Linked DNA regions of Homo sapiens: region 2 is linked to region 1. The links come from fine-mapping of genetic effects on gene expression. A gene starts in region 1. The other region holds a variant in brackets. All regions are shown on one strand. Distances are from middle to middle.

The links. PIP is the estimated chance that this variant, and not a neighbour inherited with it, causes the effect.
Region 2: its variant is fine-mapped to the expression of UCN2 in breast (GTEx, PIP 0.94).

The regions. Positions count from the first base shown.
Region 1 is chr3:48,552,691-48,568,499 of GRCh38, reverse strand. It overlaps UCN2 (urocortin 2), which reads left to right and starts at 4,719. Exons shown (of 2, transcript NM_033199.4): 1 at 4,719-4,797; 2 at 5,364-6,782. The coding sequence starts at 5,376. The coding sequence ends at 5,714. COL7A1 (collagen type VII alpha 1 chain) reads left to right here. Exons shown (of 119, transcript NM_000094.4): 105 at 1; 106 at 330-410; 107 at 609-662; 108 at 737-790; 109 at 864-926; 110 at 1,310-1,372; 111 at 1,477-1,593; 112 at 1,763-1,840; 113 at 1,937-1,990; 114 at 2,185-2,233; 115 at 2,832-2,864; 116 at 3,004-3,090; 117 at 3,299-3,391; 118 at 3,520-3,717; 1 more. The coding sequence ends at 4,094. PFKFB4 (6-phosphofructo-2-kinase/fructose-2,6-biphosphatase 4) reads left to right here and starts at 11,697. Exons shown (of 14, transcript NM_004567.4): 1 at 11,697-11,819. The coding sequence starts at 11,723. RefSeq lists enhancers at 1-398, 8,098-8,237, 8,293-9,234, 10,985-11,074, 11,205-11,294 and 1 more.
Region 2 is chr3:48,584,162-48,592,161 of GRCh38, reverse strand. It overlaps COL7A1 (collagen type VII alpha 1 chain), which reads left to right. Exons shown (of 119, transcript NM_000094.4): 10 at 1-60; 11 at 148-264; 12 at 340-489; 13 at 570-698; 14 at 1,346-1,489; 15 at 1,578-1,703; 16 at 1,806-1,949; 17 at 2,444-2,563; 18 at 2,692-2,835; 19 at 3,167-3,292; 20 at 3,374-3,520; 21 at 3,758-3,880; 22 at 4,223-4,369; 23 at 4,608-4,742; 14 more. Among named protein-coding and RNA genes, the nearest start is that of COL7A1, 7.2 kb to the left of the region's middle. RefSeq lists enhancers at 2,427-3,128, 3,129-3,832. The variant C/T (reference allele first, on the strand shown) is at 3,548.

The DNA of each region.
Region 1 (15,809 bases):
GGTAAGATGCCCCTGCTCCCACAGGGGCCCCCTGTCCCCAGAGGGCCCCCGTCACCATGGTGGTCCCACCAGTGTGGTAGCTTTTGACCTTATAGTGACCCAGTGCTCTCATGGTGTCCTCATGTCACCCAGGGTCCCCCACCTCCACAGTAGCCGCCTATGATGGTGTCCCCTGCCTATGGTGACCCTTGTCCCCATGGCAAGCCCCAGTGGCTCTGGCCTCCAGAGGTGACTCCCACCCCATGGTGTTCCCTACCCACTATCCAGGGCGATTCTCTTTGGTCCCTCACTGACCTCCTCTGACCTCACATGGACCCTCTCCCTGCTAGGGATCCCCAGGAAAGGATGGAGTGCCTGGTATCCGAGGAGAAAAAGGAGATGTTGGCTTCATGGGTCCCCGGGGCCTCAAGGTAGGAAAGAAACAAGATTGGTTTTTTTCTGGTCAGGAAGGCCTAATGTTGAAGGGCGAGGGACCTGGGGTCAGATATTAGGGCACTGGGTCAGAGGTTGGAGTAGCTGAGGCCTGTTTGGAGAGTTAGTTTCAGGGTGAAGGGGGTCACAGAGTGAGGTGTCTGGGAATCACTTCTTCATCTGCTTTTCTCCCTCAGGGTGAACGGGGAGTGAAGGGAGCCTGTGGCCTTGATGGAGAGAAGGGAGACAAGGTACAGAGGGGATGGGGGCTGGGGGGCTACGTGGCCTGGGGCCTAAGGCTCACCCCACTGCCTGATGCCTGCAGGGAGAAGCTGGTCCCCCAGGCCGCCCCGGGCTGGCAGGACACAAAGGAGAGATGGTGAGTGTGGGCACGCTCAGAATGAGGGGGCCACGGGTGGACGGGGGCCAAGTTCATGTCTTTTTTTCTCCAGGGGGAGCCTGGTGTGCCGGGCCAGTCGGGGGCCCCTGGCAAGGAGGGCCTGATCGGTCCCAAGGTACAGGGTCTGTGGACAGTGGACATGACAGGGAGTCAGGATGGGGCAGGGAAGCTCATGGTCGGGTCATGGGGGTGTAGGGACAAGGAAGGCTGTAGAGGGTTGGGACTTTGGGGGCTGAAGTGGGGCTGGTCTCGAGGTGTCAAGGTGGGTTGGGGTCACAGTGGAGTTAGGATGAAAGCATGGGAGGTGGAGGGGGCATGTGCATCAGGGCAGGGGGCTATAGTGGAGTTGGAGTCATGGGGATCACATCTGGTTGGCTCACAGGTGCTTGGGTTACAGAAGGTTTGGGCATTAGGCCAGGGAGCTCATGGGAGTTCAGGGAGGTTCCAGAGCTGAGGGAGGTCAGGGCAGAAGGTCTCTCATGCTTCTTCTGTTCCCAGGGTGACCGAGGCTTTGACGGGCAGCCAGGCCCCAAGGGTGACCAGGGCGAGAAAGGGGAGCGGGTGAGTTGAAGCCATGGTCATGGTGAATTGAGGGGAGCGTGCACTTTGGGAGAGGGTCCATCTCTGGGGCCTCTGATTACTGACTCTGTCCTATATCTCCCCAGGGAACCCCAGGAATTGGGGGCTTCCCAGGCCCCAGTGGAAATGATGGCTCTGCTGGTCCCCCAGGGCCACCTGGCAGTGTTGGTCCCAGAGGCCCCGAAGGACTTCAGGGCCAGAAGGTAAGGGGCCCCAGCTCTGACTCCTGATCCCTGAACCTTCCCTACCCTTCCAACCTCATAACCATCTTCCAGCCTGCCTGCCCCAACCTCTGAAGCTGTGGCCCCCAACCTGCCTGACTCTGATCCCCACTGCCTCTGACCCTGCTCACTTGGTCCCTGTGTCTGACAGGGTGAGCGAGGTCCCCCCGGAGAGAGAGTGGTGGGGGCTCCTGGGGTCCCTGGAGCTCCTGGCGAGAGAGGGGAGCAGGTGAGTAGGGATTCCAAGGCTTGGGTCAGAGATCGGGGTGACTTCTGTTGTCCCTGAGGTCAGAGGTCACAGCCTGGTCCCATCTGTTGCACATAGGGGCGGCCAGGGCCTGCCGGTCCTCGAGGCGAGAAGGGAGAAGCTGCACTGACGGTGAGTGTGGGCCTGGATGGGCCTGGGAGGGCCTGGGTGGGCCTGGGTGGGCTGGGGCCCTACCTCCCTCACCCAGCACCCTGACCCCTGGGCCCTGGCTCCATGCAGTCTCACCATAGTCCCTGTATTATGTGCCCTATGTCCTTCCTGTGGGCCATGGGTTCTTTATGGTCCCTGTGGTCTTCTGCTCCCAGGAGGATGACATCCGGGGCTTTGTGCGCCAAGAGATGAGTCAGCACTGTGGTGAGTGGTGCCCAGCCCGCAGTCTCCCACTCCACCCCAGCACCCTAGGCAAGGGCAGGCAGGCCCCTAGAACTTACAGGGCAAGCAGTCAAGAAGATGGGGGGATGGATGGATACACAGAAGGACACATGTGCTGCAGGACTGACACATGACATGTGTCCCCAGTGGAGGGAGACACACAGGCAGATGAGGATTGCCATGCAGTGCTCTCAGATGTCCAGCTTGGCTGTGTGGGGAGTGGGATGATGGTGGGAGCAGAGCTGGTCCCCTTGGGCCTGACCTGGACCCGGTGGGAGGGGCATCAGAGTGAAGCTGTCTCTTCCCGTCTCTGTCTGCACCACCTGCCTGTTTCTGTGTCTGGCCTGCTTCTGTCTCTTGCCTTTTGTTGGCCTGTTCCCAACTTCCCTCTCCTCTGCCTTCTTCTCTTTTTCCATCTCTCTATCTACCTCCCACCCTCTCTCTTCCTCTCTCTCCTGTTACCCTCTCCTGCTATCTCTTTGTGTATCTCTACCCCTCTGCCTGTGTGTCTCTGTCTGTCTCTCCATCTTCCCATCCTTCTCTCTGTCATTGTCTCTCTATCCCTCTCTGCCCCCTCTAGCCTGCCAGGGCCAGTTCATCGCATCTGGATCACGTGAGTAGTTTTCTACTCCCAGAACTTTCTTCACCCCAGGCCCTGCCCTGCCTATCAACTGGGGTCCTCTCAGGGGGGTTGGCTGGGATGGCTGCCCATGGTGACTTCAGGGCCCTGAGGCCCCTGCTCTTGGCTCCAGGACCCCTCCCTAGTTATGCTGCAGACACTGCCGGCTCCCAGCTCCATGCTGTGCCTGTGCTCCGCGTCTCTCATGCAGAGGAGGAAGGTGAGGACAGCTGAACCCGTGGGGCAGCTATGGGTGGGGCCGAGACACGCACATGGGTGTCCATGAATGCAGGGCACACGCCAAGCACGTAGGGTCTGCATGCAGGGCACACGCATGGGCACTGTGTGCACACAGTGGAAATCAGTGCTGCCCACCTTGCCCCGGGGCCAGCAGCCACTGCTCCCAGCACACCCTGCCCTACCTGCAGAGCGGGTACCCCCTGAGGATGATGAGTACTCTGAATACTCCGAGTATTCTGTGGAGGAGTACCAGGACCCTGAAGCTCCTTGGGATAGTGATGGTGAGAATGGGGGGCTGCCAGCGGGGTCTGGGGAGGGGCAGGCAGGGCTGAGCCCTGCTGACCTCCCCCTGACCTTTCAACCCTCTCTGATTCCCACAAACCCTGCTGACTTGACCCCATTGGCCCAGACCCCTGTTCCCTGCCACTGGATGAGGGCTCCTGCACTGCCTACACCCTGCGCTGGTACCATCGGGCTGTGACAGGCAGCACAGAGGCCTGTCACCCTTTTGTCTATGGTGGCTGTGGAGGGAATGCCAACCGTTTTGGGACCCGTGAGGCCTGCGAGCGCCGCTGCCCACCCCGGGTGGTCCAGAGCCAGGGGACAGGTATGGGCTGAGCCCCCACCGTGGGGAACTGGGCACTGAGCCTGCCTGGATCGGGTTCTGGGGGAGGAGTCCTTGGGCCAGGGTTCCAGGTCAGGGTCCTGGAGGAGACGCTCCCTCGCAGTAGGGGACCTGGGGCAGACGCCCAGACCAAAGAGCTGAATATAGAGCCCCAGCCGTGGAGCCCCCAGTAGGGTCCCCTTCCATGTTCCCTCCTTTAAAGACCTAAGTATGGACCCCTCTGAGGTCAGAGCCCCCACTTCCTGTTGTAGCCTCCGCTCCCTCCCCTTGGCGGTGCCTCTGCCTGAGCGTCTCCGGGGAAGGTCAGATGGCTGACGACCGTTTCCAACCTGTCCTCACCAGGTACTGCCCAGGACTGAGGCCCAGATAATGAGCTGAGATTCAGCATCCCCTGGAGGAGTCGGGGTCTCAGCAGAACCCCACTGTCCCTCCCCTTGGTGCTAGAGGCTTGTGTGCACGTGAGCGTGCGTGTGCACGTCCGTTATTTCAGTGACTTGGTCCCGTGGGTCTAGCCTTCCCCCCTGTGGACAAACCCCCATTGTGGCTCCTGCCACCCTGGCAGATGACTCACTGTGGGGGGGTGGCTGTGGGCAGTGAGCGGATGTGACTGGCGTCTGACCCGCCCCTTGACCCAAGCCTGTGATGACATGGTGCTGATTCTGGGGGGCATTAAAGCTGCTGTTTTAAAAGGCTCCTGTTGTGACTGTTTGGGAAGATGGGGGGTTTCAAGGGGGAAGGTTTTCCTTGGGGGGTTGGTATTATTCTGCATGGGTACAGAGTCCCTCTGCCCAGTCCTGGTCACTGTCTTGTGATTCTCAGTCCCCAACTTGTCCCCGGAAAAGAGTAGATAGGGTGGGGGCTAAGGACACCCCCGGGAGGGATGAGTCATAGGTGGGGGGCTGCCTCATGCCAGGAAGCATGTACCAGCTCCCACCCCAGGGGGCTGAGGGAGATAAATGGGCCCTGAAGCGGGGTAGAGGGTCAGACCACAGGACAGTAGTGCCTGGCCCCAGCCCCAGGCAGCCACAGCAGGCTGCCTTACCCCAGAAGCAGCTGGTGGCGGTAGGACTGGGTTGGGTCGGGATGGGAAGGGTCTTGGAGGTTGAGTGGATGTGGGGTTTGGCTTTATGGAGGGCTTGGACCCAGGGGACTCTGGGATCTCTGGCTGCTTTTCTGCCTCTGAGATCCGATTCCTGCCCTTCTGTTTCCTGGATCAGCTGCAAGCTCTCCTGCTGAGAACCGCCTGCCCTCCTGTGGACTCTGTGTTTCTGTCTGAATCTTTCTTTCCATCATGCTGTCTGTCTCTGGGATGGTTTCTGTCTGTCTTTTTCTTCTAGTCTCCATTTTGCTCTGCCTCCATCTCCTTCATCTCCCTCTCTTGCTGTCCCTCTGTCTCTGGATTTCTTTGTTTCTTTTTTTCTGTCTTGCTTTCTGCCTCTTTGTCTCATTCTGGCTCTCCTCTTGTCTCCCCTTCTCTGTCTCTGGCCTGGCCTGGCCTCTCTAACCCCTTTCTCGGTGTCTTCCTCTCTCTCCATCCCCCGCTCTGTCACTCTGCCCTTGCCATCTGTCTCTGTCCATGGACCCCAGTTGACCAGAGCCCCTGCCCTGAGCCCATTTTCTCCTTGCAGCCTGACCTCACGATGACCAGGTGTGCTCTGCTGTTGCTGATGGTCCTGATGTTGGGCAGAGTCCTGGTTGTCCCAGTGACCCCTATCCCAACCTTCCAGCTCCGCCCTCAGAATTCTCCCCAGACCACTCCCCGACCTGCGGCCTCAGAGAGCCCCTCAGCTGCTCCCACATGGCCGTGGGCTGCCCAGAGCCACTGCAGCCCCACCCGCCACCCTGGCTCGCGCATTGTCCTATCGCTGGATGTCCCCATCGGCCTCTTGCAGATCTTACTGGAGCAAGCCCGGGCCAGGGCTGCCAGGGAGCAGGCCACCACCAACGCCCGCATCCTGGCCCGTGTCGGCCACTGCTGAGCCTGAGAGAGGGGGTCACAGTGATAGGGCCACCCTGGATGGGAAGACCTGGAGGGCAGCCACACAGCTGGACGGATGCTGCCACATCTGGGCATACAGTGTCTGGACGCTGCCACATCTGGGCATACAGTGTCTGGACACTGCCACATGGAGCCACTGTCATGCAGGTCATATCAGATCTGAGTGCCCCACAGAGTCACAGTGTGTCTGGACAGCCTGGACATTGGACATTGCTAAGTTGGGTCACTGCCACATGGAGTCTTGCCATGCCTGTGTGCCCCACAGACCTAATATATGTCCGGACAGCTTGGATGCTGCCACGTAAGGTCACTGCTGTGGCGAGTCTTGCTATGTCTGGGTGCCCCATAGTCACAGAACACCTGGACACCGCCACATGCAGTCATCATCATGTTACTTTCAGGAGCCTCAACACGAGAGCTCAACACTGCCTCCGACCAGTCCCTCTGAGGCCCACAGGTCTGTCATCCCATAGGCCACCACACAGAGAAATGCTGGCTGAGGGTCACTTGCTTGCTCTGTGCCCCATGAGGCAGCACCTGCCCCAGATGGACGGGGCTGTGAGGGGTGTCTCCAGGCACAAAGGCCCGAACACAGGAAGCCTGTGACCATGGCAGCCTTGTCTTATGGGCGCATATGTGCGTGTGTGGCTGAGTCTCTGACAGCTGTGAGTGTGTGTGAGCAGGGTAAGGGTACGTGAGGGGTCTGAGAGGAGTGGGTGCTTGTCCCCCAAACCTGCATGAAGCAAGAACAACTCCTGGCCAGGCCCTGTCCTCCCCACGTACCCCTGCATCCCCAGCCTCGACCCAGGGACATGCAGGGCTCACAGGAGACAGGGCTCAGGCTGCCGGAGCTCCAACCAAACTCTGTCCCACTTCACGCACGGACTGTCCTGGGCAAAGGTGTTCACCTTTCCGAGCCTCGGTTTCCTTATCTGTAAAGCAAAGCGACACCAGCAAGCCTGTGAGCATTGTGTATATAGCAGACATGGAGGTCCTGCAGCAGGAGGTGCTCAATAAACACAAAGCGACTGAAGGATGGGACCAGCAAGCCTGTGAGCATTGTGTATGTAGCAGACATGGAGGTCCTGCAGCAGGAGGTGCTCAATAAACACAAAGCGACTGAAGGATGGGATGTGCGAGAATCCCAGTGGTGTGCACCCAGGCCGCGACACATGGTGGGTGAGTCATACCTGGCTTCTCTGCCTTCCTCCCTAGCTCCCCGGTTAACTGACCTGGTCCCTTGGTTTGGAAGGACTAGGTTTTGCCTGATTTCACAGCCCAACTCCATTGCTGGGCCAGAGACAGAACTGACTTTCCAGGCAGTGTGGACGGGCTTGCCCGCAGAGGGGGCAGGCACTCTGGGCTGTGCAGACAACTCTAGGTGGACATGAAGGCAGACGCTGGGTGGCATGGGCAGCTCTGGCGGGAGAGGGAGACTGTACTGGCCACAGCGTGGCCGGCTGACTGGAGTGGGGGCACTGGCGCTGCCCTCACAGTTGTAAGCAGCCCTGTGGGGGCGGGCCTACAGTGGGCTGGGGAGGCGGGGCTGCAGGAGCCGCAGGAGTCGCTTCTCTCTCTTCAGAGTGCTAGGCGGGGTTACCCCACTCTGGAGCTGCAGGGGGCAGTGGCCCTGGCCAGTTTGGTTGCAGGATGGACAGAGGCTCGTTAGGAGGCAGCTCCCTGACCGACCTGGGGCCGGGGAGCAGCAGGCGGGGTAGGCACGGGACAGCGTGGGGAGGGTGGAGGGTTAGGGAAAGACCTGGATGAAGTCAGGGTGGTGCTGGAGGGGTGCGAGAGTGTTGGGGGGTCTCTCCTGGTTTAGGGGTGCTCTGAGGGCCATTCATCTGTCAGTGGCCCGAAGGAGGGGGAAAACTGTCGCCCTGCAAGGGAGAGGGGGCTGGGCCAAGGGGGAACTATAAATAGTGTCTTCCTCCAGCCCAGGGGGAGGGACCGCCAGCTGGCGCTGCCCAGGCCCTCCTGCTCTGCTCTTTGCTGGCCTCCAAGGGATCATGTTTGTCCAGGTTTCCTCTTGGGGTCACACCAGTTTGGGGAAGTCTAGAGGCTCATTTAGGATGGGTTTCACATGATGTGGCTTTAGCCCTTAAACCAGCACTTCTAGGGTGTCTGCTGTGTGCCCTGTGCCAGTCCTGAGCTTCTCTGAACACCTGCTGTGTACTCAGTTTGGTCATGAACCTCTCTGAACCCTTTCTGTGTGCCCTTGCTGGTCCTGAATCCCTAAGCACCTACTGTACGCCCTGTGGCAGGCTGGAAGGAGGAAGTGCAGATCAGGGTTCCCAGGCTGCTTGGTGACATGGTTCTATAACCTGAAGTCAGAACTTCACACTCCTTGTGAGCCCTGGGCCCAGGGAGACACAGGGGACAATCCTTTGCTGGAAATGGCCAGAGGAAGCTGGAATTCCTGGAAACTCCTGAACCTCCCAGTGGACAGCAGGGCTGGGGGTGGAGAGATATATGTGGGAAGGGAGGCAGCAGAGAGCAGCAGGCCCCACTGCAGCCTGCCTGTCTCTGCACATGCTGGGGTGCAGGACTTGTGAGTGTGTGTGCGTCTGTGTGTGCATGTGCAGCTGTGCCAGTGTCTCTGTGTGCATCAGTGTGTGGGCCTGTGTGGCATGCACTGAAACCCCTGGGTCTTTATGCTGCAAAGGGTGGTTTGTGGGCCAGATGTGGTGGCTAATGGCTATAAACCCAGGGCTTTGGGAGGTTGAGGCGGGAGGATCGCTTGAGGCCAGGAGTTCAAGGCTGCAGTGAGCCATGATTGCACTATGTGCTCCAGGCTGGGTAACAGGAGCGAGACTGTGTGTGTGTGTGTGTGTGTGTGTGTGTGTGTGTGTGTGTGTGTGTGTGTGGTGGGATGGTTTGGCAGTTCTGTCAGGACTGGCCAGTAGATACAGGGACTGGGAAGAGTTTGAGCTTTGAGAACTGGCCACCACATGGCTTCTAGGCTGGGACACTGGGAGGAAGTCCAGTGGTCAGTGCAGAGGGCACCCTGGGAGCCAACCAGGGTCAGGCCAGCCAGGTTCATGGTGGGCAGAGGCTGAGCAGAACATGTTCACACGTGTGTACAGACATCCCAGCATACTTCCCACGCCTGGGACAGAACAGCTGGCTCACTTTCGGATATACTGAGGAGGAAAAAGCCATGAGGGCCAGAGATTCTACCGGGCATCCGCTGATGCTGAGAGAGCAGACGCTGGGACAGCATCTCCATGGAGAGGACACAGGGGAGTGGGAGCACACATGTGAAGGTGGACTGTGCGATTCCACTGTAGTGTGGCAGGCAAGGTCTGGAAGGCTGGGAGTTGAGCTGAGTCCATGCTGCACTGTGGACTCGCTTTGTGATCTTGGACCCTTCTCCCTCTTCCTGACCCTCAGTTTCCCACCTGACAAACAGGGCCATGGGAGGGGAGATGGAGAATATCCTCAGAGCAGATGTGGACGGTGGCCTTGGGGAGGAACCCCAGGCATCTCCTGATGTTGACCTGTGGCCTTCCAGCTGGACATAGGGCCTTGAAGGAGGGTGCCTGGGTCAGCCACGGGTAGACTTTCTGGGGAAGAGAGGAAGGTGCAGAGCTGTTGCATTTCCTGGGAACCAGGCTCATCCTGTCTGGGTGTGAGGATGCCTTCCCAGAGATAGCCCTGGCCCCCTGCCCAGGCCAGCTGTCCTCTACCCCCAGCCCTTGATTAGCATCCCAGGAGGTCTGGGAAGAGAATGGACAGGCCAGAGGAGGTGCTGGGTGTCTGTAGATATCAGAGGAGATAGCTTTTGCAATGAGTGCTGCGGGTTAGACAGGGTGTGGGCATGTGGTAATGAGGTCTCAGAGGCCACGGTGGCCCCAAGATGGCCTTGGCAGTGGCCAGAAGACAAGAGGGCTGGCTGTGTCACGAACAGAATGAGTGGCTTTGGAGAAGTAGGGAGCAGGTCACGAGGGGCACCCAGCTCATCAGGAGCCGCCCATGGATGTGCTCAGATCTGCTGGGACTGGGGTGGAGGAATAAGCGGGTAGATACTGCAAAAGGAGGATGAGGAAGGAGGAAGTTGTTGACTCTGCCTGGGGCAGGGTGTTCCCAGGGCAAGCAGCTAGAGCTGGTTTGGGGGAGGGTCCAGATGGGCTTCCAGCATGTGGACCTTTGGAATCTTCAGTTCCTATGAAGTGGGCAAGACATCTGTGTCAGTCATCTTAAGGGTCCTTGCCAAGCTTTAAAGAGCTGGGTGGACTTGGACTGATCCAAGGCAGGGCTGTGGCAGGGAGGGCATGGGAGGGGGTGCTACACCTATAGCCCACGAGGCCAGTCTTGTTGCCAGTCCCATGCCCTCAACACCTGGCTCCTGGCTGGGTACACACTGGGCAGAGAGAACCTGAGGATGCAGGGCACCTGCCAGGGGTGTTGTGGATGACATCGCTAGAGGGCAGTGTGGCTCAGGTTGAAGCCGTGTTGGTGGGGGCTGGGGCAGAGAGTGTACAAAGCTTGGAGAGGCGGGGCTGGGGATCCCGAGGAGGCGGGAAACTGCAGGAGTCCGGTGGGGGCCAAACAAGAAAGTGAGCCAGGGGTTTAGGAACTTCTGGATCTCTCCCTTGTTCCTTGTCCCCAGTGCATTTTCAAAGACAAGAGGGAGATACAAATATAGTAAAAGGCAACCATAACGTATTTTAAAATGAATTTCTTAGAGATTGACATACTTAATTTATACTGTAATACTGTAAGATAGACAATGTGCACATCCCATTTTCCTGAAGAGAAAATGTTATTAACATATTATTTTCAAAAAATATGTAAAACTTTAGTTAAAAAAACCAAAATACTAAAAATCAAAAAAAAATTGTAAAAAATGAAATTCTGGAAAGACGATTAAGATACTCCCAGGGCTTAGTGAGTACCCAAAGTACTTGGTTACTAAGTGCCACGCACGGCCGGGCGCGGTGGCTCACGCCTGTAATCCCAGCACTTTGGAAGGCTGAGGAGGGCGTATCACCTGAGGTCAGGAGTTCGAGACCAGCCCGGCCAACGTGGTGAAATCCCGCCTCTACTAAAAATACAAAAATTAGCAGGGCGTGGTGGTGGGCGCCTGTAATCCCAGCTACTTGGGAACCCGAGGCAGGAGCATCCCTTGAACCCGGGAGGCGGAGGTTGCAGTGAGCCAAGATAGCGCCATTGCACTCCAGCCTGGGCAACAGGAGCGAAACTCCGTCTCAAAAAAAAAAAGTCCCACGCATTTGCTCCCAGCAGCCAAAGCAAAGAAAGAGGAACAATATTGAAATGTGTTTTGAGTCTCTATCCATGAGGTAAAAGAGCTTTTCCAGCGTGGTTGAGCATGCTCCTATGGACGGCGGAAGAGTCCCGGGGCTCGGAGCAGTCAAGGGGGACCCCGAGGAGGGGCAGGAGGGCGCAGCGGAGTTGACGGCTGGGACTGCAGGCCTACTGGCCCCTGTCGGCTCTGACCAACCTGGCCGTGCGGGTCACGTAGGCCTCGTCCCACTGCATGAAAACCCCTCCCTCCTGGGGGCCCTGGGCTCCCTAGCAAGGAGGTAGCAGAATTCACGCGTGCCGCTGCTCAGGGATGCAGCGCCAGGGCGGAGCCCGTAGGTGGGGCCTATGCAAATCAGCGCGGGCAGGTTGGGAGAGCTGAGTTTGCGCATCCGGGGCGGGCCTGCACAATCCGGGCCTTGAACTGGGGCGGGACCAGTACAATCCGGAGTTGAGCATGCGCATTCTCGATCCTGGCCTGAAGAACTGGGCCCACTTGTTCCAAAACGGGCGGGTAGGTGAGTTGGGCATGCGTGGTCGGAGGCCGGGCCCCTTTCAGCTGGGGCGGAGCCTACTCACTCTGGGGCGGGACCTGCGGGAAGATAGACATGGGCTGTCGCGGCTTGAGGAGGGGCGGGGCCCAAGGGGCGGGACCTCGGGTGGCCCGAGGTGGCCCGGCTGCTGGGTTGGAAGCGGCGCAGTCCGACTCATCCCGGCCCCGGGATGGCGTCCCCACGGGAATTGACACAGAACCCCCTGAAGAAGATCTGGATGCCATACAGCAATGGGCGGCCCGCTCTGCACGCTTGCCAGCGCGGTGGTGAGGCGGGGTCCTCTGGGAGGAGGTGGGAGGTGCACCGGGATGGGTGGGTAGGGCGGCCTGGGCGGGGGTCTCGCATGGAGAAGGGGCGGGAGACAGATGGGGAACCGGGGACAGGTGAGGTTGCCGTGACTGGGGAGGCTGCTGGGGACAGGTGAGGCGGTCGTGACAGTGGTGGGCCAGAGACAGGTGTGGCAGAGCAGGGGGCGGGGACAGGTGTGTGGGGGCATATCGGCTTGGCGGTGGCTAGGTCTGGCCACCATCACCTCGGGGAGGGCTCTGGCCCCCTCGCTTCCCTCTCCAATCCCCATCGCCCCCAGTCTGGGGAGGACCCTGTGGGCACCCCAGGCCCTTCCCTCTCTCCTGGCCAAGGAGTGTGGGCCGGGTTGTTGGACTGGAACTGAGCTGTGTGGCCCTAGGTGAATTACTTGGCCTCTCTGAGCCCAGAACTTTCAAAGGTGGGCTAGTTTTCCAACAGGAGGAAGGGTGCCTCTTGGCCTTAAAGCTGAGCTTGGGCAGGAACTTCAGCAGAGATGTGCTCAGGATAGAGACAGAAAAGTATGCCGTGTGGGCCTGTGTCTGTGTCCCGGGACATGTAAGTATCCACCTGGGGTCATGGGTGTACAGTAAAACTGGAGAGTGAAACAGCTAGGAGAATGCTGAAATTCATGGAATTGTTAAGGGGCTCACCTCTCCTAGGGTCCCAGGTGTTTAAACCGCTTCCTTGAGTTTCTGCCTGTCCTTAAATGAGCTGGCAGTTTTTTTTTTTTTTAAGAGATGAGTCTCGCTCAGTGGCCCAAGCTGGAGCAAGTGCAGTGGCGCGATCATAGTTCACTGCAGCCACGACCTTCTGGGCTCAAGCAATCCTCCCACCTCAACCTCCCGATTAGCTGGGATTATAGGTGCGCCACCACACCCAGCTTTTTTTTTTCTTTTTTCTTTTTTTTTGTAGAGACAGGGTCTTGCTATGTTGTCTGGGCTGGTCTCCAACTCATGGCTTCAAGTGGATCCTCTGGCCTCGGCCTTCCGAAGTGTTGAGATTACAGGCGTGGGTCCTGGCCTGCAACTTTTTTATTACCAGGAAAAGAAAGATTTGTTTTAGGAGTAACTGAAACATTGTAATGAATTTGCAGCTTGTCCAGCACCTCAGAGAACATCTAGTTTAACAGACAGTGAAATGGAGATCAGGAGATTGAGTGACATGCCTGGGTCTCCCTGTGATCCTGCCTCTGCTTATGTATGATAAGCAAGGGGAGAGTTCTTTGTGCTCATCCTGCTGCAGCAGCCTGGAGCCATGGCTTTGATCATGATATGAGTCCTGGGGGAAGGGTGTGTGTATTTCTGGCCACACTGTGAGTCCTGGCAGGGGAAGGCCATGTTTCTGACCAGACCAAGTCGTGGTAACTCATGGCTTTGATTGTGATGTAGGTCCTGGTGGGGCTGTGCTGTCTATAATGCACACTCAGTCCTGAGGGCTATGGCCACCCCTCCTTTGAGACTCTTCTGGAGGCGGGGAGGCTGAGCCAGTCTGTGTTATTAGGGCTGTGTGGTCCTGACTTAGGGGGGTGGCTGCTATTACTACATAGGGGAAAGGAGTGAGGACCTGGACTTTTTTTTTTTTTTTTTTTTTGAGACGGAGTTTCACTCTTGTTGCCCAGGTTGTAGTGCAGTGGTCCTATCTCAGCTCACTGCAACCTCTACCTCCTGGGTTCAAGCAATTCTCCTGCCTCAGCCTTCCAAGTTGCTGGGATTACAGGTATGCGCCACCATGGCCGGCTAATTTTGTATTTTTAGTAGGATGGAGTTTCACCATGTTGGCCAGGCTCGTCTTGAATTCGTTATCTCTAATGATCTGCCCCCCTTGGCCTCCCAAAGTGTTGGGATTACAGGCATGAGCTGCCATGCCTAGCCAAGTCTGTGAGCCTTTAAGGAGTAGGTCCTCAATAAGCGGAGGCAGGGTATTCTGTCATCACTACCATTCTTTCTTTGCTTCTCACTACGTCTGAGTCAGGGATTGATGCATCAGCTCCAAGCCAACCCCCGTTACAGGTGAGAGGAAGCTGAGGCCCAATGGGAAGGTCTCATAGCTCCTGAGGCAGGGCTTGTGTTTCTCCAGGCTCTAAGTGTGGAACTGAAATGTGGCTCTGGCCTGAGCTGAGGGGCTCGTGCCATCACGGTGTCTCAGGGTGTTGGGGTAGGCTGGGTTCTAGGTCCGCACTTTTTCCTGGAGGAGGAGGTAGCACCTGAGAGGCCAAAGATGAGACCTGCAGGTTGTTTGGGGATTTGGGCCTCAGGGTTCACAGCAGGGAGTGGGTAAGCAGTGAATGAACATGGAACCCGCCCATGCAGCACCTCCAGCTCCCAGTGCCTGCATTTGGGCAACACTTTACCCTTTGCATAGTAGACTTGTAGGTTGAGTGACTGCAAGGACAGTCTGGACCCGGAGGGTGTGGGTGGGGATGGAAGCGGATTTGGTCCCAGGGCTTTGTGGGGAGGAAGAAGCAGGACCCACTGCTGGTCTGTGCTTTGTACTGGGTTTTCTCTGGAGTCTAGTCCCCAGCTCCTCAGGGCACTAGGGGCTGGTGGACTGAGGGATGTACTGCACCTCCTCCACTCCCACAGGCACGCCCCCGCTTGATAAAATTTAAAGCCACACCTGAGGGCTTGGGAGGCTTTTACCTTTCCCATCATTGGCCTCCGAGCTCAGACCTGGAGGAACTCTGAGGGCAGGTGGGGCAAGAGCTGACTCAAGAAGGACTGCAGAAAGGACGGTGTTTGATGGCTTTTCTCAGCTGAAAGGTGGCAAGACTCTTCCTGGGTAAGGACATGACTGGTGTGTGCACAGGGCAACAGGAGAGATGACTTTCAGTCCCCTCTGAAAAGGGCCTCCATGGCACGTTACTTTATTTTAAAGAGCTCTTCCTTCCCTAGCCTGGCCTAAGGAGGTGAGAGCAGTTGCAGTTCAGGAGTCAATTCTGGCACCCCCTCCAGGGACTTGTGGCTGCTCCTTGGGTAGAAGTAATGGAACATAGACACTGCCCATTGCCAGGCACGTCTCAGGCCCCTTGGGCCCCTTCGCTCCTAGAGCTCATGGGGCCTGCAGCGAATTTACAGGAAAGGAACCCATGAGGGAAGTTGGGCTGACATGTCTTCACATTTCCTTCCGCACATGCTCAATGTTATAAACAGTGTGTTCTTTTTTTTTTTTGGAGACAGTCTTGCTTTGTCCCCCAGGCTGGAGTGCAGTGGCACAATCTTGGCTCACTGCAACCTCTGCCTCCTGTGTTAAAGCAATTCTCCTGTCTCAGCTTCCCGAGTAGCTGGGATTACAGGTGTGCACCACCACACCCGGCTAATTTTTGTATTTTTAGTAGAGACAGGGTTTCACCATGTTGGCCAAGCTGGTCTCGAACTCCTGACCTCAGGTGATCTGCCTGCCTCGGCCTCCCAAAGTGCTGGGATTACAGGCATGTGCCATCACGCCCAGCTATAAACAGTGTATTCTACCATCCTGTTTGCTCAGTGTCAGGGTCCTGTGGGCTCAGAGCCACAGGTGCAGCCGTGCACCCAGCCCGCTTAGTCCACGTGCTCTGTTTTGAGAGCTGCAATGTGTTCCCTCCTTGTTGTGCCTCAGTTGGCAATTTCTTATGGCTGGAATTTCCCAGTGTTTTGCTATGGTAAGCAGAGCTGTTGTGATACACTTGAACTTTGGTTTTCTTTTGGGTCATTTCCTTGGGAGCTTATCTTGGGGAGCAGAGGAGATAGGTAATTTATTGCCTTGTTTTGCACCCAGGCCTGATTTGCTGCCCTGCCTGCCCACCTTGTGCTGCGCATGTGGGTGGAAGGCGGGAAGGGAAATGCCACCAAATGCCATGGGAGGAGGCTGGAGCTGTCTCTGGGAAAATAGGAGATGTGGAGAGGGGGTGCAGATCCCCAGTCCTGAGGTTTTGGGAGTCCCTGAAGGAGCAGTTGGGGGGTGGCCCCATCAGC
Region 2 (8,000 bases), 28 kb before region 1:
CCGTGAGCACCCTATTTGGCCGCAGTGTGGGGCCCGCCACTTCCCTGATGGCTCGCACTGGTGAGAAGGCTGGGCACTTTCTTCAGGCTGGGACGGGCAGGCAGGGCAAGGCCCGGAGGCCACTGACATCCCATGTGCCCTGGGCAGACGCTTCTGTTGAGCAGACCCTGCGCCCGGTCATCCTGGGCCCCACATCCATCCTCCTTTCCTGGAACTTGGTGCCTGAGGCCCGTGGCTACCGGTTGGAATGGCGGCGTGAGACTGGTCAGTGCGGGGGAAGGGATGGACAGGCAAGGGTCAGGGCATGGCCTCTGCTGGTCTGACCCTGTTATCTTGCAGGCTTGGAGCCACCGCAGAAGGTGGTACTGCCCTCTGATGTGACCCGCTACCAGTTGGATGGGCTGCAGCCGGGCACTGAGTACCGCCTCACACTCTACACTCTGCTGGAGGGCCACGAGGTGGCCACCCCTGCAACCGTGGTTCCCACTGGTGAGGGCTCTGTGGGCTGGGCCAGTGAGTGGGGGAGGTGTCGGAGCCCCAGGCTGCCTCTATGCTGTGCTCTCCAACAGGACCAGAGCTGCCTGTGAGCCCTGTAACAGACCTGCAAGCCACCGAGCTGCCCGGGCAGCGGGTGCGAGTGTCCTGGAGCCCAGTCCCTGGTGCCACCCAGTACCGCATCATTGTGCGCAGCACCCAGGGTGAGGTGGACGCAGCCAGCACCCCCACCACACACACTGAAGTTCCAGCCTGAGGGGTCTGAGTGTACCTCCAGCCCTCTCCTTCCACACCTGGGTCCCTATAGTCTCCTCCCTGTCTCGTTATCCATCTGCTTCCCAAGATGGCACTGAGCCCTGAACTGTCAACAGGGTGTGTCTGCCCCTACCCTACCCCAACCAATCTCCTCCCTGCCCCACACCCCATCCACGGCTTTCACCTCTGCACAGCCACAAGCTCAATCACCTGTCTTTCTGTTACCCTAGTGGTGACCACTGTACACCAACCTCTCATTGCATGTCCCCATCCAGCACTGACCTCTGCCATCCCACATCAGTGTCTGTCAATGGCTCATCAGTTCTCACTGCAGTCCACTGACTCCTGTCATCCTACATGCTAAGATCCCACAGACTCCTGTCCTCCAGTGTCCCTGACCATCACTGGCCCCTTTCATCCTATGTCCTTGTCTTGCACTCACTTTTTTCAGCCATATCCCAGCTCTCTGGTCCCCACCACCCCACATCCCCACCCCCATGGCCCTTCTCACTCTGCGTCCCTGTCCATCACTGCCATCGTCCCACATCCCTGTCTCTTTCTGACCCCTGCCCACCTACCCTGACTTCTCTCTTAGGGGTTGAGCGGACCCTGGTGCTTCCTGGGAGTCAGACAGCATTCGACTTGGATGACGTTCAGGCTGGGCTTAGCTACACTGTGCGGGTGTCTGCTCGAGTGGGTCCCCGTGAGGGCAGTGCCAGTGTCCTCACTGTCCGCCGGGGTGAGTACTGCAGGAGGCTTGTGGAGGACAGCTGCCTGCCTCACTCTGGTCCTGGTTCTGACTTCTGACTTCTGTCTGTAACTCCTAGAGCCGGAAACTCCACTTGCTGTTCCAGGGCTGCGGGTTGTGGTGTCAGATGCAACGCGAGTGAGGGTGGCCTGGGGACCCGTCCCTGGAGCCAGTGGATTTCGGATTAGCTGGAGCACAGGCAGTGGTCAGTGTGGGGTGTGTGGGGGGACTGCCAAAGGGACCAATGAGGGTATGGGTGCCAGAGGGGACAGGCAGGAGCCATGCCAGCATTTCCCTCTGACCTCAGGTCCGGAGTCCAGCCAGACACTGCCCCCAGACTCTACTGCCACAGACATCACAGGGCTGCAGCCTGGAACCACCTACCAGGTGGCTGTGTCGGTACTGCGAGGCAGAGAGGAGGGCCCTGCTGCAGTCATCGTGGCTCGAACGGGTCAGGCCCTGCCCCCGTCCCTTGGCTCTCTGCCTCCATTGCTCTTTCAGACCCCCATGCCTTCCCTTGCAGACCCTTGCTTCTCCCCAGAACTCCTGCCTCCCCCTTCAGAATCCCACTCCCTCCTCCCTCAGAGACGCTGCTTCCTCTTCAGTTTCAGCTGTCTCCCCTTAAGCCCTCCCCGTATTCAGATTCCTCCGCTTCTCTCCTAAGACTCCCACAGCCTTTGCCCTCAAATATCCACCACTTCAACCCTCAGACCCCCATCCCTTTTTTGCTGGACCCAAATCTCCTCTGAGATTTACACTTTCTCCTCCATCAGACCTGCTCACTGCTTCCTAAAACCTCCACCTCCCCACTCCTCCACTGGACCTATTCACCATCTCCTCTATCAAATTCCCGTCTCCTGTTAGACTCCCATCATCTTCCCCTATCAGATAGCCCCACTCCTTCCTGCCTGTTCCAGCAGACTCCCCATTGCCTCTCCCCACTAGACCCACTGGGCCCAGTGAGGACGGTCCATGTGACTCAGGCCAGCAGCTCATCTGTCACCATTACCTGGACCAGGGTTCCTGGCGCCACAGGATACAGGGTTTCCTGGCACTCAGCCCACGGTGGGGACTGGGGTTTGGGAGGGGGCAGGTCAGGGTGGAATGGGGGCTGGGGGTTTATTGGGGGTCCAGGTGGGGCTCTGGGGCACAGAGTTTGCTAGCCCTGGAGCTGCCTCCATCCCTGTTCCCAGGCCCAGAGAAATCCCAGTTGGTTTCTGGGGAGGCCACGGTGGCTGAGCTGGATGGACTGGAGCCAGATACTGAGTATACGGTGCATGTGAGGGCCCATGTGGCTGGCGTGGATGGGCCCCCTGCCTCTGTGGTTGTGAGGACTGGTGAGTGGACCCTGGCCAGCTACTAGCCACACCGCATTAGCTACCCTGCCCTGCTGTGTGTTCCTGATTGCCCAGCTGCCTCCACCCCCCTGCTCAGTGACTGTCCTGTCCACACTGACCCACCCCACACTGATTAAGTGTCCACCCACGGTGACCTCCTGGTGGCCCCACACTGCCCACCCCAAGGCACTGACCTCCTCCTCCTCAGGGCTGCCTAAAGTGACCTGTCCACACTAACCTCACACTGACTTTCAGATCACCCCTGCGTCAACCATTCCTGCACTGCCTCTCTGTTCTCTACCAGGACCCCTTACCTTGCCTCTGTCCCCAGCCCCTGAGCCTGTGGGTCGTGTGTCGAGGCTGCAGATCCTCAATGCTTCCAGCGACGTTCTACGGATCACCTGGGTAGGGGTCACTGGAGCCACAGCTTACAGACTGGCCTGGGGCCGGAGTGAAGGTATGGCTCCCTGACGCCACCCCTGTCCTTCCTGGCTGGGACTGCTCACCCCTAACCATTGCTGTATGCCCACCTGGCCAGGCGGCCCCATGAGGCACCAGATACTCCCAGGAAACACAGACTCTGCAGAGATCCGGGGTCTCGAAGGTGGAGTCAGCTACTCAGTGCGAGTGACTGCACTTGTCGGGGACCGCGAGGGCACACCTGTCTCCATTGTTGTCACTACGCGTAGGCAGAGCATGCGCTGGAGAGCTT[C/T]GGATGGGTGGTGTGGATGGTTTGGGGATCCGGGCTTGTGCTCTGGATTGGAGAAAGGACCAGGATTGGTAGTGAGCCTTTGGGGGCAGGGTCTGAGAGGAGGGAGAGGGGTCTGAGAGGCTGGGCGGGGTGCGTGTGCCAGGGTGGGCCTGGGATTGGTGCAGGGGCCATGGGGGCAGAGCCTCCCTGATTCCTGAGCTTTCTCTCCAGCGCCTGAGGCTCCGCCAGCCCTGGGGACGCTTCACGTGGTGCAGCGCGGGGAGCACTCGCTGAGGCTGCGCTGGGAGCCGGTGCCCAGAGCGCAGGGCTTCCTTCTGCACTGGCAACCTGAGGGTGAGAGGTGTCCCCAGGAGGAAGTTAGGGACCATTGGGGGCAGGGCTGTGGCAGACTCCGCAAGGTAGGCGAGGACAGTGATGGTGGGCGGGGTCTGTCACTGGGGGTCTGCGGGATCCGTGACAGTAGGTAAGATCAATCAATGAAGTGGGTGGGATCAATGAGTTCATGGAGGGTCAGTCTGGCAGGGTCCGTAAAGTGGGCAGGGTCAGTGAGGATGAGGAAGATCAGTCAGGAGGGTGAACCCAGTTAACAGAGCCAGTGAAGTGGGCAGGCCCTTTAATGCCCCCAGGTGTCACTATCCCACATGCTCTTGGCCCCCACCCTCACGCCTGCCCCAGGTGGCCAGGAACAGTCCCGGGTCCTGGGGCCCGAGCTCAGCAGCTATCACCTGGACGGGCTGGAGCCAGCGACACAGTACCGCGTGAGGCTGAGTGTCCTAGGGCCAGCTGGAGAAGGGCCCTCTGCAGAGGTGACTGCGCGCACTGGTAAGCCTGCCTCACCTTGGCGTGCTCCTCCCCTGCTGATGACCCACCCTGACTTCCTGCACCCCGACTCTGAGTGACTCCTCCTGTACCCCTACCCCTCACCCTCTGACCCTGGGTGACCCCAGCATGACCTCCCATGATGCTTCAATAAGACAAACCGGACCCAGGATCTCAGATCTCTCCCTTCTGGGTTCTCAGGACTCAGCCTCTGATCCTCGATCTTTCATTCCTCCTTCAGAGTCACCTCGTGTTCCAAGCATTGAACTACGTGTGGTGGACACCTCGATCGACTCGGTGACTTTGGCCTGGACTCCAGTGTCCAGGGCATCCAGCTACATCCTATCCTGGCGGCCACTCAGAGGCCCTGGCCAGGGTGAGGGGGAGGCCAGGATTTGGGTGGGCTGGCAGTTGGGGCTCTGTGGAGACAGCTTTTTAATCAAGTTCTGTCTCCTGCAGAAGTGCCTGGGTCCCCGCAGACACTTCCAGGGATCTCAAGCTCCCAGCGGGTGACAGGGCTAGAGCCTGGCGTCTCTTACATCTTCTCCCTGACGCCTGTCCTGGATGGTGTGCGGGGTCCTGAGGCATCTGTCACACAGACGCCAGGTATAGTGGGCGTAGTGGGAAGGGCAGAAAGGTGTGTCTGGGTGGGCTGCCCGCTTCAGTAACTTGTTCCCCTTCCTACAGTGTGCCCCCGTGGCCTGGCGGATGTGGTGTTCCTACCACATGCCACTCAAGACAATGCTCACCGTGCGGAGGCTACGAGGAGGGTCCTGGAGCGTCTGGTGTTGGCACTTGGGCCTCTTGGGCCACAGGCAGTTCAGGTTTGGCCCTGGGGCAGCCAGATTCTACCTCTCCCTGAGGCCCCCCACCCAGGCTCCATACCAGTTACCATCTCCTGACCACCCAATAGGTTCAGGCATTCTCCCAGCTCTCTCACAGGCTCCAGACCTCACCTACTGCCTGGCTCCCTATCCTGCCATCACTGCTGACTCCCTAATAGATAGGGTTTGGTCACACACACCCTGATGTGTTTCTCCAGGCTCTGTGCACCCCCATCCCTGCTCTGTCATCCTCCTCAGGCTCTGTGTTTCCTTCCACCCCAGGTTGGCCTGCTGTCTTACAGTCATCGGCCCTCCCCACTGTTCCCACTGAATGGCTCCCATGACCTTGGCATTATCTTGCAAAGGATCCGTGACATGCCCTACATGGACCCAAGTGGGAACAACCTGGGTGAGGACTGCAGCAGGCATGGACTCCTGGGGCTATCCACTGGGAGCTTGGTGCCCCAGGGTTCTGACATGTCCTTCCTTCCAGGCACAGCCGTGGTCACAGCTCACAGATACATGTTGGCACCAGATGCTCCTGGGCGCCGCCAGCACGTACCAGGGGTGATGGTTCTGCTAGTGGATGAACCCTTGAGAGGTGACATATTCAGCCCCATCCGTGAGGCCCAGGCTTCTGGTAAGGAGTAGGCTGATGGGGAAGGGGTCTGGGAATAGGGGTGGCCCTGAAAAGGCTATCATGCAGCCACTGGACCCCACCTTAGGGCTTAATGTGGTGATGTTGGGAATGGCTGGAGCGGACCCAGAGCAGCTGCGTCGCTTGGCGCCGGGTATGGACTCTGTCCAGACCTTCTTCGCCGTGGATGATGGGCCAAGCCTGGACCAGGCAGTCAGTGGTCTGGCCACAGCCCTGTGTCAGGCATCCTTCACTACTCAGGTTTGGAAGAGGCCTCTGGGGGACTGGGTGGTAGAATATAAGGGGTCTGGGGGTTCTTGGTAGAAATGTTCAACCTCAAAGAGACCCTATGTCCGCAGCCCCGGCCAGAGCCCTGCCCAGTGTATTGTCCAAAGGTAAGAGTCCCTCATCGAGAGGTGAACAGAGGCTGCACCTGGGGCTAGCCACTCTGACCCACATCTGACATGTCTTTCCCCAGGGCCAGAAGGGGGAACCTGGAGAGATGGTGAGTGCCCCTGCGGGCGGGGAATAGAGAATGGGTTGAGTGTCAGTGGGGCAGGAGAGGTTGGCAGCACAGGTCTCACTGATTACCCTTCCTAGGGCCTGAGAGGACAAGTTGGGCCTCCTGGCGACCCTGGCCTCCCGGTGAGTGTCCCCCACATCTGTCCCTGCACCCTGACTGGCTTATCCCCACCTAACTGCTATCTTCTTTCAGGGCAGGACCGGTGCTCCCGGCCCCCAGGGGCCCCCTGGAAGTGCCACTGCCAAGGGCGAGAGGGTGAGTGTGGAGACCATCGAGGTTTCTCTGAGGCACTCCTCAAAGCTGTCTCGGGGTTTTTACAAGAGAGAAGGAAGAAGCAGAGTTAGAATCATCGGGAATTCCTAGAAGCCCAGCTGGAGGTTATAAACCACCACAGAGACTTTGGGGGACACTCTGAAATAGAAGGGCCAGTGGGGCCTCTAGCCCCGCTGCAGAGCCTGAGCAGCAGCTCCAAGTCCCAGAGGCAGGGAAGCCCTCTGCCTTGTCGCTGCCCTTGTGCCTGGAATTGGGCTCTGTGAAGCTCTGAGGGGCCATTTCTCTGCCTCACTGTTCCACCCCCAATAACACTTGGGGGTCAGTGGGGTAGGCGACCCCTTGTTGATGGGGTGAGGCCCCTCCAGCAAACCAGGGGCCTTGGGGGAGGGTCCCTTCCTGTCCTGACCTCTTCACCTCCTCAGGGCTTCCCTGGAGCAGATGGGCGTCCAGGCAGCCCTGGCCGCGCCGGGAATCCTGGGACCCCTGGAGCCCCTGGCCTAAAGGTGAGCAAGCCTTGTCCTGCAGGTCAGGGTGGGCGCTGCCTGAGTGGGTGGGGTGGCTCCGACTGTTCTGCCTCTGGCCTCCATTTGCAGGGCTCTCCAGGGTTGCCTGGCCCTCGTGGGGACCCGGTAAGGTGCCTTCCCTTCTTTGCTCTCTAAGTGTCTTCCCAGGGTTCTTCCACAGGGTGGGAGCCTGGGGTGGTGGTGCAGTGCCCACGTTGACATTCGCCTGAGCCCAAGCACCACCCTCTGCTCTGTTTCGTCCTCAGGGAGAGCGAGGACCTCGAGGCCCAAAGGGGGAGCCGGTAGGTGAAGGGGGAAGGGAGGCGGCCGGGATGTCCCAGGGAGGAGCAGGACTGCCCCACACCAGACCCTGTGCAGGGCCTAAGGCGCGAATAGGAATAGCTGGACATGTCTAGGGGCTTCTTCCAGCTCAAGGCCCCCATAGCCTGAATCCTGCCCACTGCTCTCTGTCCTTACAGGGGGCTCCCGGACAAGTCATCGGAGGTGAAGGACCTGGGCTTCCTGGGCGGAAAGGGGACCCTGGACCATCGGTAAGTGCAGGGTATGTGGAGGCAAGTGATGTGTAGTGGGGGGACCAACACGAGGGGGGCGAGAGTGAGGTCTGTGGGGTTGCACCTTATACTTTGTCTCCTCCATCAGGGCCCCCCTGGACCTCGTGGACCACTGGGGGACCCAGGACCCCGTGGCCCCCCAGGGCTTCCTGGAACAGCCATGAAGGTGACAGCCTCATGAGTGCCATGTGATGCAGAGACCTGGTGACCCCATTTGAACCCACATAACCCCTGCCAGTTACTCTGGCCCTTGTGACCCTTTGATTACCCCCATCCTCACCATGACGCCTCAGTTCTCCCAA